3 separate regions of the Homo sapiens genome follow, and regions 1 and 2 are each reported to be linked to region 3. Evidence: microRNA targets listed by miRTarBase, many of them from high-throughput screens and not tested one by one. Region 3 holds a microRNA gene; each other region holds the end of a gene's coding sequence.

Region 1 (4,000 bases), not on the chromosome of region 3:
GCCATTTCTCATCTTGAGAGTAGGGGAACAGAGGGTCACCCTGGGCTGGGGGCTTCCCCATTGGGGACAGAGTGTGTTCCAAGACCCATTTGCACAGTGGCCTGAAATGCTGAGGGCCTCAGACCCCTTGAACAGGGACAAGGCTGGCATGTGAAGGCCGGGGGCTGCTGGCCATGCCCCCATGGACCCACCCTCCGGGCAGAGCCCTGTGCCACCCTAGAAGGTGGCACAGCCCTGAGTCTCTCACACTGTTCTCTGCTCCTCCAGAAAATGCAGCTGTGATTTGTTGCTGGGAGCGGCGGCAGCGAGTCCCTGCAACAGCAATAAACTTCCTTCTCCTCGGGCCACCTGGATCCTTGATTTGTGCAGCTTCTGTTGCTTCCCTCCTCTCTGGTGCTGCCCCTTTCCACACTATGGAGCCAAAGAGAGACCCCACTCAGCCAGTTTCCCCCACCCTGCATTAGACAGGTGGGGAAACAGAGGCCGGGAGAGAGGGCCAAGGAAGGAGCCTCCTGGGGCATTAATGGGAGGCAGGGGGCTGGGGTGGAGAGCCCAGGGAGTCCTGCGTGAAGCCGGAGGGGATGGGAGTGAAGGACGCATCAGACACCTTCCCCGCTCCATCTCACAAGCTGCGAACAGGTGAGACCCTGATGAAATCACTCGCTTCTCCGATCCTACCTCCACCGAGGGGCCTGGCAGGTCCTCACAGCCCCCCAGCAGCAGGTGGAAGACAGGGTCTCCCCAAAAGCAGCGTCCCCCAGGCCAGAGAGACCAGGCCACAGGAGGATGGCCAAAGCTCAGGGACAACCACTCCTGGGGAAGGGGCTCCCTAGCAGGGACCCCCCACCCCCACCCCGCAGCACAGACCCCATGGCTGCTGTTGGCAGGGGCTCTCTGCTTTGAGAAGTGTTTAGTGAGCCAGCCCCTGTGTCCAGTCCTGTGCTGGGCATGATGAGGGTACAGGAAGAGGAAGAGACCCCAGCATCATCCTCAGGAGACATACGTTTGAAGAAGGCAATGGTTTCCACACAGAATCACAGTGGTCAGAGCTGGATATGCTTTCATTGCATTAGACAAGTGGGGAAACTGAGGCCCAGAGAGAGGAAGGAGTTGGGATAGCTGGCAATGCCTGATCCAGGAGAAGAGAGTTCTCCTGAGGCTGACAAGAGGCCAAGAGGAGCCAGAGATGAGATAGACCCAGTGTCCAGGGAGGGACATGCCAGTGGGATCAGACCCTGATGACAGGGGCAGCCAGAGATGAGAGAGATCCAATGTCCAGGGAGGGACATGCCAGGGGGATCAGACCCTGATGATAGGGGCCTCTGGCCTGGCCTGCTCCTGGGAATGTCCTGTTCTGTGGGGGTGCCCCCAGCCCAGCCTCTGGACCCCTCGCTGGAGAGCCCTCGGCTGCAGCTACCTCAGACTGGCCCAAGAGTTGTCCCTTTTCTCCACCAGACTTTGTCCCCTGGGAGTGGGGACCATGGTGTGACTCCCACACCCCCATGATGCCAAGGCAAGTCTCAGGAAAGACTTGACTTACTCAACAAGCAGTGGGAGCTACAGGGAGCCCAGCACCACCCAGACCCGGGAATCCAGGATGGGGGTACCCCAGCTGTGCAGGAGACAGACCAGTAAATAGATCATTAAATTCCCTGGTATACATTTGAAAACAGAAATACAGACCAGAAGCATAGAAACAGGACACCTGAAGCAGTGTCAGTTGGCGGGAGGAATCCAGGATGGCTTCCTGGAGGTGATGATGCCCAAGCTTGGTCTTAAAATTTGACTAGAAGGTACCCAAGTACAGAACGTAGTCCTTCTTAAGTTTGCTTAATCTAAACTTCATTCCCACCTATCCTCTTCTTTTTTTTTTTTTTTTTTTTGAGACGGAGTCTTGCTCTGATGCCCAGGCTGGAGTGCAGTGGCACAATCTCAGCTCACTGCAACCTCCACCTCCCAGGTTCAAGTGATTCTTCTGCCTCAGCCTCCCAAGTAGCTGGGATTACAGGCACGCACCACCATGCACAGCTAATTTTTTTTTTTTTTTTTTAGACAGAGTCTCGCTCTCTCACCTGGGCTGTAGTGCAGTGGTGCCATCTCGGCTCACTGCAAGCTCCGCCTCCCAGGTTCACGCCATTCTCCTGCCTCAGCCTCCTGAGTAGCTGGGACTACAGGCGCCAGCCACCATGCCTGGCTAATTTTTTTTTTTTTTGTATTTTTAGCAGAGACGGGGTTTCACCGTGTTAGCCAGGATGGTCTCGATCTCCTGATCTCGTGATCCACCTGCCTCGGCCTCCCAAAGTGCTGGCATTACAGGCGTGAGCCACCGTGCCCGGCCCCAGCTAATTTTTTTGTATTTTTTTAGTAGAGATGGGGTTTCACCATGTCGTCCAGGCTGGTCTCAAACTCCTGACCTCAGGTGATCTGCCCGCCTTGGCCTCCCAAAGTACTGGGATCACAGGTGTGAGCCACCACACCCGGTCTCATTCCCAGCTATCTTCTTTTGTGTATGTCTTTATATTGGGGGTTATAAATGCTAAATGCTTGCTGTCCTCAGATCCCTTGTAGTTAGGGAGCTAATTAAAATGTTAATTAATATTACAATGTTATTTAAGCAATGTTAAATAATATCTAACATTTATTGGGCACTTAGTATGTGCCAAGCACTATCCTATAGGTTTTACATTATCTCAATCCCCAGAAACAATCCCATGAGGTAGGTTACTATTAACATCATGCCCATTTTACAGATGAGAAAACTGAGGCCAGACAGGGTTAGTGACTTCCCAATGTGTGAACTAGAAGGTAGTGGAGCCGGAATCCAGACTTTAGTGATCTGACTCCAGGGCCTGTGCTCTTGTCCACCATGCTCTGCTGCCCTGCAATGTAAAACATCCTCCAGAAAAAAAATAAATAAATAAAAACTTCCCTGATGAGAAAGATCTGACATAGCTGGTGCTGCCCCTTCCCCTTCTTCCTGCCTTGAATATGGATGTGATGCCTGGAGCTGAGGCAGCCATCTTGTGGCCAAGATAATTACAGAGATGTCAGCTTAGACCTCATCAAGCTGTAGATCCCATGCCAGCCACCATTTTCCTCTGAATGTCTGGCTACGTGAAAAAAAATACATCTGCATTTGTTTTAGCCACCGAAGTAGATTTTCAGTTACTTGCTAATCAATTCACTAGGGAACAGAAGGGGTCACTTTCCAGCCAAGGGAACAGCATGAGCAAAGCTATAGCGACTGCTTGGAAGAAACTCCGGTGTTGCCAGAGCATAAAGTCAGGGGCAAGGGCAGAGTGACCAATTGTCCTGGTTTGCCTGGGCTGAGTTTTCCCAGACATGGGAGTTTCAATGCTAAAACTGGAAGAGTCCCAGGCAAACCAAGATGGTTGTTGCTTGGAGGGGCAAGTGACAAGGCTGGAGAGGAAGCAAACGCCCTTAGGGAAGGCCTTGTGCAGTGGTAGGGGCTGCTGGGACTTCCTGCTGAGGGCAGTGGGGGCTGTAGAGGGCTTTTAGATAGAGAAGTGGCCACTGTGGTCCGATGTGTACACTACAGTGTCCATCAGACAGCTGTGGGGAGGGTGATTTGGAGCAGGCAAGAGTGGAGGCAGACAGGCCAGTAAGGAGGCTGCTGCAGCAGTCTAGGCCAGAAATAATGCAGCCCGGATGGAGGCGGTAATGAAAAGGAGAAAAGGGAGGTTTCAGTAATTATTTAAGGGGTACAGTTGTAGCGTTGAGCAGCAAGCCTCCAGCCCCACATCTACACAAACTTCCAGGAATCTGATTAATTATCAAAACGATTGTTTGTCAGGAGCCAGGCATGGTAGCACACACCTGTAGTCCCAGCTACTTGGAAGGCTGAGGCAGAAGGATGCTTGAGCCCAGGAGTTCGAGACCAGCCTGGGCAACATAGCAAGACCCTGTCTCTACAAAGAATACAAAAATTAGCCAGGCGTGGTGGCATGTACCTGTCGTGGCAGCTACTTGGGAGGCTGAG
Region 2 (4,000 bases), not on the chromosome of region 3:
GTGTGTGCCTCGCAACACTCACTGCAGTAGGTTTGTTTTTCCAAAAAGAAATTTAATTTAACCCAAGTGTACACTGTCACACTGTAAACACATGGGGCACCAAAAGGGTGGCTTATTGAATTTAATGCCCTGGCAAAGGTCACCTTTTAGAAAAAGCCAAAAATGGCTGGAATCTTTCCTGATAGCTCTTCAGTCAGGCTTTGGATGCAGGCAGATGTGTTTATTTTTTCAGAGGGAGTTCCTGAGGACCCATCTCAAGTTCAGGCGCTGGGCATCCCCCTCCCATCGCCCTCTTGTGCTCTCAGAGACCTCCCTCCTCCTCCTCCTGGGAGGTCACTGTCCCTGGTCACCCAGGTGGGCCCCTGAGCCAAGCAAACTCCCTAAAGCTGGCGGTCTGGGAGGGAGGGCCTGGGACCCCCACTGCCCGCCCCTCCAGGCTAGAGTGTGTGGTGCTTTTCTTATAACTAACACTGCCTTTCTCTGCCCATTTCCCTCAAAGGATGGCATGAACTGGGTCTGCAAAAATGTCAATGCAAAGAAGAAATAAAATCTAGACGAATGGAGATGCAGGAGCTGCGGGAGCCGAATTCGGTCCTGAAAAACACTAATTTGCTGCTTTCTGACCAAATGTTTTTCCATCTGTGTACAGCTCCAGCTGTTTGAAGAGAGGGAACAACACGGTTTAGAAAGAATCCCCATTCCAGCAGTAGATTTAACTGATCTCTGAGGTTCAGTATCATTTTTCAAATAAAGGAATTATATTATTTCCTCTGCATAATTGAAATAGTATTAAATGTCTCAAAGCACATGATTAGAAAATGAGATCTTTTAAATGAGCAAGAGATTGCATTGCAGTTTAGACAATTCCAGTGGGCTTTTTTTTCCTCTCAAAAAAAAAAAAAGAAAAAGAAAAAGAGGAAGAAGCAGCTTTGCTGAGTTCATTTATTTACTGACCCGTCCCTTGCATTCCCTCCATGGTTTTGAAACCACAGACAGTGTTTGCTGGTGCTGTCAGTGATTTTTACCGTCACTAGCCCAGCCAGGCTTCAGTCTGTCCGACAGGAAGCTGCTGGGTGGGGGTGGGGGGAGAAAAGGCAGATAATTAAACCATCTCATCGTCTTGCAGGTCGGAGACTACGTATGTAATCCTCACTCTTTGGACAGAAAAAAAAAAAAAAGTCTTTCTTGCAGACAAGTCACTACAGAAACATACCCCATCCCACCCACCCCTGCCTCTGCCCCAGCCAGCCACACAGAGAAGCAAATTCTTATGACTTTTGACTGTAATGACATCTGGAATGTAAGGAGAGGTGGGAGGTTTAATTCCAGAAAAATTACAAGGTCCTTAAAAAGCTCTCACATCGAGGGCTCAGGCTAGCGTAAACAGGCTTTCTCCAGCTCAGTGGAGCAGTGAGCAGCCGACTCTGAGATTAGCTGGCTTCTCCACGGCCGTCCTATAGACAGGATTTCTAAAGCTCAAAGAATTCTGTGTTTAAACGATCACAATAGGCCGCTGCTATCAGATTTTAGAAATAAATGCAGCTTTACCATGAACCTGCTCCACTGAGAAAAGCCAGGCAGATCGATTTTTAGATCAATTTTTACAGTGCTGGCAACTTGGTGGTGTGGGATGCTCCTGGATGGAGAGGGTTTGCTGCTGGGGAGGACATGGGTGTGTGTGTGACTGCAGGGGTCGTGTCCAAGGAATCAAGAGTCACCCCAGCTGCTGGGCTCCTCTGCCTCTCTGCAGCAGAATGTCCGTCCTCTGTTGATTGATTGGAGAGGAATAGCAGAACATTTCTCCTGCCCCTCGTTGCAAAACGAGCTTGTTTCCCTGAACCTCAGAAATCCTCAGCTTCAAACATGGGGAAACAGGCCAGAGCATTGCCCGGCTCCTGAATTAAACTCTGTTCTGGTGCCTGAGCTCAGGGGTTTTCAGAGAATGAATAAGAGACTGTCCAGTGACTGGTGGGTCCCTGGGGGCCAGCTGCCTTCTCATCCTGGGAGGTGGCCCTTCCCAAGCCCATCAGGGCGTGTGAGCAGACTGAAGGGGCCGCTGCAGCCCCTGGCCCTCAATACCCAGCTGCTTCTGGCTAAGAGTGCAGCAGAGACTGAGGCATAGCCAGCTTCAAAAGCGATCTGACATGAAAGTCATTAACAAAGCCAGCCGTGAAAAGGTGCCCCAGAGTTGCTGTGGACAGACCTGTAAGGACTTGCAAAACAAAAGAAAGTGAGGGGTTTTTTTAACCTCAGAGCTAGCTGCTCTCTGCAGCCTCCTCCACTGGCTTCTCTGGCTCACCCAAGCTCTCCCTTACAGAGGCAACACAGAATTATAAGGAATCAGAAATCCCCCTTCTACCAGGCTGCAAATGTGGCTCTAGCACTTGCAAATTGTTTTTTCTTCCGAATAGTTCAGCAGGGACAAGTTATCTGAGGGGCAAAATGCCTGCTTGGAGGTCTGCAATTTTGGAACACTGCAGTATGGAACTTTGGCATTGGAGGGTCTGTAAAATATTTTTGTTCTTTTACCACCAACTTAGGGGACTGTTTTAAAGAGCCATCCCAAGGCCTCTCCTAGCAGGCAGAAGCCACTCCTCTGATAACGGCCTCTGTAAATGTTCTGATTTGCTCTCAGCTGCAGAGACACAGAGACACTGCAGATGTCACACGCTTTCATCTTCCCTTTGAGCCCTTTTGAACCCTCCTGGGGCTCTGGGGTAGATGAGAGAAGCCTGAAAAAGGCAGAGTTTGAAAGCTCCCATTTAAAAACAAAATACTTTTTAAAGCCCTCTTGCCTCTTCCCTGCCCACTCCTGCCCCCTGACCAGAAGACAGAATTTGAAGCTGGAAAGGGAAGACCCCTTTTCCCCTCCTCCTGTCCCCAGTGAGTCTTAGCGAGACTTTTGCCCTGCGCACAATTGCATCTGAATGTGCGGGGGAGAGGGCTGGGGGCCGGAGGGCAGGCAAGGCCTGGGGGGTGCTCGTGATATGTGCTCAAGCCAGTTGTGGGAAAAACTCGAGTCCTCCCCTCCTCCCGACCTACCCCGTGTGGCTGCTTTTGGCTGGATTCCCTGCACCCAGTGCAACACACCCTTTCCCCTTCACTCTCCCTTGGTTACTATGGAAACAAGGGTGTCATTGATGTGGGCTGAGCTGGGGAACATGTCGGTGCACAGCTGAAAGTCAGCGATTATGCCGGCGGTTAGAAATGTGCCAGGGTTAAAGGAGTCCGCAGCTCCCACGGCTGCTGGGAGGACATGGTCCTGCCCCCTTCCTTCCTCCCTCCCTCCGTCTCCACTTCTCTCTCCTTGCTTTTGACAAATTTCTTTATTCCCCTCTGGACTAAAGTAGTGGCTATTTTTGTGCCACTCTGCGCCCCACCCTCACTGTTGGCCGCTCCTTATCCGGCCTGGCCTGGAGGGTGACACCATGTCACCCTCACCAGGACTCGTCTCTCCATTCCCGTCAGAGTTTGCTTTGATTTCCCTTTCCTTTCCTTCTCGGGGACCAGTTCTTACTTCCTTTTATTTTTAGCTCTGCACTCCATGTGGTTTCAGGGTTCAGTCTGATCCATCAAAAGGTTCTTTTTTTATAATCCCTTTTGAAAATGATAATCAAAGGAAGAGATGTGGTGTTTGGTCATGTGGAAAACTCAATGTATAATTTAGACGTCTGTCAAAAATCCGACAAATAAAATTTAGCTGGAACGAAGGCAGCCTGGAATGTGTTGTGTTCTTTGCTGAAGCTCAGAGAGGGCCTGAAATGTGTTTGTCCTTTCAGGGGTTAGCTTTCTTCAAGAGGTTTTTTCCAGAAGGATATATATATAAAATAGGATACCAACAATAGCAATAATAGCCCTTCATTAAGCCCCTCCTACGTGCCGGGCACTTCAGATACATCGTGGTGAGCATTAGTCCCCCTTTGCAGCAGAGGACATTGAGACATTTGCCCCAGTTAAGGAATTTGCCTGAAATCACAGAGCCTTTAAGTGCAGGTGGGGC
Region 3 (4,150 bases):
AGTTGGCATAAAATAGATGTTAATAAGTTCCAGTTTCCTCTCTAAAATTGGAATTAACTGCCCATAATTCTAATTTCTAGATGTTAACTAAAGACTTAATTTTAAGTCTTAAGCTTGCCTTAATTTTATTCACTATCACAGAGTAGTTTATCCAATGGAATTAATTAAACTTCTGGCTTCCTTAGGAGTACACCTATTGAAACGTGCCTCTCTGAGCAGATAATATATCATTTAGTCTCTTATCCCCCCTTCTGCCAGCTTCCCAACTAAACTTGAAGGGCTTTGACAGCAGGGACTATTCCAGTCACCTCTTTACTTCCCATGGTGCCCGGAACACTGCAGGTCCCCAGAAAACAACCCCTAAAAAGAGACAGTAGACGAGGAAAAGGAAGACCACATGCTTAAGGTTACAGAGAGGATTGTCAAGAAATAGACTGAGGTCCTGTCTGAAAGCATTTGGATTAGCATTTAAAGCCCCAGGTGTACCAAATAAACACATCTGCGGCTTTAATTTAGGCCCCTGGGATGCCACCGCTGTTAGAATTCCAGAAAACTAATTAGCTAATTCCCACTGCCCCAGGTATTACCTGAACTCACTTTGTTGTTTTCTGCTCCAAACAAAGCCAGAGGGGCCAGAGGAGAGCCCTTCCTATGGGCATCAAAGTACAAGATGTGCGCTTTGATTCTTTCTCCATGAACACACTGCTGCTCAGCCGCCCCGTGTCTGTTCTCTCTTCAGTTTACTCTTAAGCCAAAATCAACTGCTCCCTCTTCTGCCCTCCCCCCGCCCCAGCACTTTGCTCATACTGCACCCTCACTGGGCTCTGGGTTTGTTCTCCCTGGGGCCACAGGGAGTGTGTCAGTGTCTACACCTCCCCCAGGGACTGAGTTGCTAAATGCAGCAAGGAAGCTCACCCATCTCCCCTCTTCCCCTCGTTCCTCTCAGAGCCCAGAACAGTTTCTTACGGGAGAGTGGATCTGCAAGGGAATGGCATTGACTCTGCCGATGATCCCACGCTGCAGATCCTACTCGACCACCACCCAGGCCACCCCAAGCTCCAAGAGCAGATGCAGCCGGGGGCCTTCGGGGTCTCAGGGCTCAAGTACAGATAGCCAGGTCTCTCCCAAGCCACACATGGACAGCTTCTGGCCTGTTCTATGCCTGCCCTGTGAGAAGCAAAGAACTTTCCTCTTCCAGAATCAGGATTTTGCCTTAAACAAAGGTAAATGCTTACATAATCTGAATTGGATCCTTGGCAGAAATATTTCATTACCACTTGTTGCTAAGGGTGAAACTGAACTAGACACAGTTCCTGCCCTGAAGAACCTCACCGAGACACAGGAAGTGCAGGTCAGCAGTGTAATGCAAAATAGAAGAGATGGGGGCAAGAAGGCCTGGAGGGAAACAGAGAAGGGAATGGAAAATTCTATCAGGTCAGTCTTGGCGGGCCTCATGGAAGGCTCAGTCATCAAAGTTGAGTACAGGTTTGCTGTCTGAAAAGAAGGGGCTTTCCAGGCAGAACGTATACAAGGCATCGGCTTGACCCAAGGGCGAGACACCTATTGTGTGCCTGGGCAACACAGGTCCTTCCAGCATGAGGTGTATGCAGGGACAGGGGGTAGGAGGGCAACGAGGGGCCCGTTCAGCCTAAGCCCTGCTAAGGTGTTTGAAATTAACCACGTCAAGCCACCAAAGGAGTTAGGCAGGGCTGATGAGGCTGTGTTTGAGATTCCTGCGGCTTCCTAAGGAAGGCTTCTAGGAGGATACTGCAATAGACCAAGACTCAAAGAGGACTAAAGACTGCCTCTGTGCAGGGTGAGTAGCACGAGGAGCCTAGCTGACCTCGGGCTTTGGAAAGAGTCGGAGGCAGTGGTGGTCTCACTGTCATAGAGAAGAGTAGTGCATGGGGGTCTGAAGAGAGAGCTGAGAGGTCACGATGCCAAGTGTTCCGATCCCCATGGCCCCCCTCTCACTTGCCATCCACTCACTCGCGGATGCCCACAGAACCCGCCTGTGCACAGAGCCTCAAGCGGTGTGATACCCTCTCCTCCAGAAGGATCCATGGCAGAGAAGGAAGGGCCATGGTCTGGAGTCAAGTCTATAAGAGCAAAACCCCAACCCTGGCTTCCTGCCCGGCCTCCCTTTCCCTTCCCTTTCTGCCTCACTGCCTCCATTCTGAATCACATCCAAAACACACCACATACCCTCCCACCTGGGGTTCCATCTCCTTCTGGGAGATGGCCTTCTCCTAGAAGCCCTGCCAACCTGGCCCTTCAGGGCCACTACCCTGGCCAGCCACAGGGACATGACCCCACCCCAAATCTCACTAGAACACCCCAAATTCCAGACATCACTGACCCATGCTCCCTCCTCTTCTAACTTCCCTACAACTAAATTCTAACTGGAAGAATTCCCCAGCCAACACAGAAGCATGGTGACTTACTTCTGGTGAGTCCAAAGTTTGAGAAAACAAGACTTGAAAAAAGCAACACTCTCCGGACTGCGTCCTCAACCTGTCTCACTTTCAACAGCTGAGGAAGGATGGGAATGGGGTGCTCCAGTAATGTGGCAATAGTCAGCCCCCAATATATGACACGGCAATAAACGCATTGAGACTGCAGGATGGTCTCCTATAAACTCTTTGACGGTCCTCCCAGCAGGAAACAAGACATCATTCTCATGTAGATTTCTCCGATTTTCCCTAGAGGAACTCATAAACTCCACAGGTGTTACTGAAGGGAGAAAAGCTGGGCTGAGAGGCGACTGGTGTCTAATTTGTTTGTCTCTCCAACTCAGACTGCCTGGCCCACAGCCACAGCTCAGCCCCGAGCTGCTCTACATCTGTGCACAGAATGTCAGAGAGTGTTTCTTTGGAGAATATCTTTAAGTGCTCTCAAATGGAACTACAGAGCCATCAGCTATGTCCCCTCCGATTGCAGTAAGAACTGAATGGAAGAGAAGGACCTTCAGAATAAAGCCAGGGAAGCAGAAACCACTGAAAACCTTCTCTCTGGAACCAACCAGGCAGGGCCCAAGCAGTGTTTTGAATCTCCTTAGCCTATCATTCATAAGAACACAAACTAATTATCTGCAATCCCTTTGGATATCATTTCAAACAATAAAAATAAGGACACCCGTTCATTAAGTGGACTTGTCTCGGTTTACTGCTCCCCTGCACCTTATTAGAAGGGCCAATGCTTTGCCATTATTCTGCTGAACACAGGCCACAGCTGTCTTCGTAAGTCAACACAAACCTCTCCAACCCCCAAAGCAGGTGCTCGCTTGCAAAGTCAAATAAACCGTACCTTACAAAAAGCTGGTCACTTCAGGCACTCCACAGACCAACCAGCCAAGAGGCTAAGCCCAGCAGAGGTGGAAAGTGTGCAGGGGCTCCCGCCTCCTGGGCTGCGCCTTTGATCTGTGCCTGGGGATGGAAGAGGATGCGTGGGGCGCGTAATGCCCTGCTGTGCAGAGCCTGGCTCGGGTCTGCCTGACACCCAGGCTTCCTGGCCCCTGCCCGGCAGGGAGAGGCAGCCAAGCCAGCCAGGGGAAAAGTTTCAGAGCTAGTATCTGCTCCCAGAGCTACAACAACAACCAAAAAAAAAAAAAAAAAAAAAATTCAGCAGTAGCCCTTCCAACTGGAGCTTCATCTGCCCCAGCGCCTGCCGGGTCAGATGGCAAATGCCACCGTTTCGTGTCTTCTTAGCCCTGAAGTGTTTTGCTGGGTCACAGTGCTCTCCACACAGGTACATACCAATCTGTCTAACCACCAACAGTTAAACTGATTCTTTTTAAACTACATGGAAGTTTGTGTACTTGGACTGGAGCCACAGTACGCTGTGCAAAGAACAAAGGGTCAGGAGAAGAACACAGGCTTTGTGGTGGAAGACAGTCAGCTGGCAGCCTGGCTTGCCTCCGAAGGACTACAGGTAGCGTGGACCTAAGCCACATAAGCGAGCACGTGCCCCTTCAAACAACTCTGCTGTGAATACCATGGAACATGCCCCAACAACAAAAACCCCCTGGAGAGGCCCAGGAAATCTTCAAGAAAACACCAGCTATTGGCTGGGCACAATGGTTCACACCTGTAATCCCAGCACTGTGGGAGGCCGAGATGGGAGGATTGCTTGAGCCCAGGAGTGGGAAACC

What was found. The annotated mature microRNA hsa-miR-4429 reads AAAAGCUGGGCUGAGAGGCG and lies in region 3 at 2,744-2,763, shown strand. An mRNA with a match to its seed (bases 2 to 7 or 8) in the 3' UTR can be bound and repressed. Matches are read on the target gene's strand: a 7mer-m8 pairs with bases 2 to 8, a 7mer-A1 pairs with bases 2 to 7 and ends in A, and an 8mer does both.
Region 1: the mRNA of CTRC is a reported target of hsa-miR-4429. The part of its 3' UTR that is shown has no 7-base or 8-base seed match.
Region 2: miRTarBase lists ARL3 as a target of hsa-miR-4429. Seed matches in the 3' UTR shown: 7mer-m8 at 925-931 and 8mer at 1,540-1,547.

Annotation. Positions count from the first base shown.
Region 1 is chr1:15,446,308-15,450,307 of GRCh38, forward strand. It overlaps CTRC (chymotrypsin C), which reads left to right. Exons shown (of 8, transcript NM_007272.3): 8 at 268-2,935. The coding sequence ends at 282. Among named protein-coding and RNA genes, the nearest start is that of CELA2A, 8.4 kb to the right of the region's middle.
Region 2 is chr10:102,673,441-102,677,440 of GRCh38, reverse strand. ARL3 (ARF like GTPase 3) reads left to right here. Exons shown (of 6, transcript NM_004311.4): 6 at 500-3,710. The coding sequence ends at 547. Among named protein-coding and RNA genes, the nearest start is that of TRIM8, 31 kb to the right of the region's middle. RefSeq lists an enhancer at 3,087-3,636.
Region 3 is chr2:11,539,265-11,543,414 of GRCh38, reverse strand. It overlaps MIR4429 (microRNA 4429), which reads left to right and starts at 2,738; the gene lies at 2,738-2,810. All of the region lies in intron 1 of GREB1 (growth regulating estrogen receptor binding 1), which reads right to left.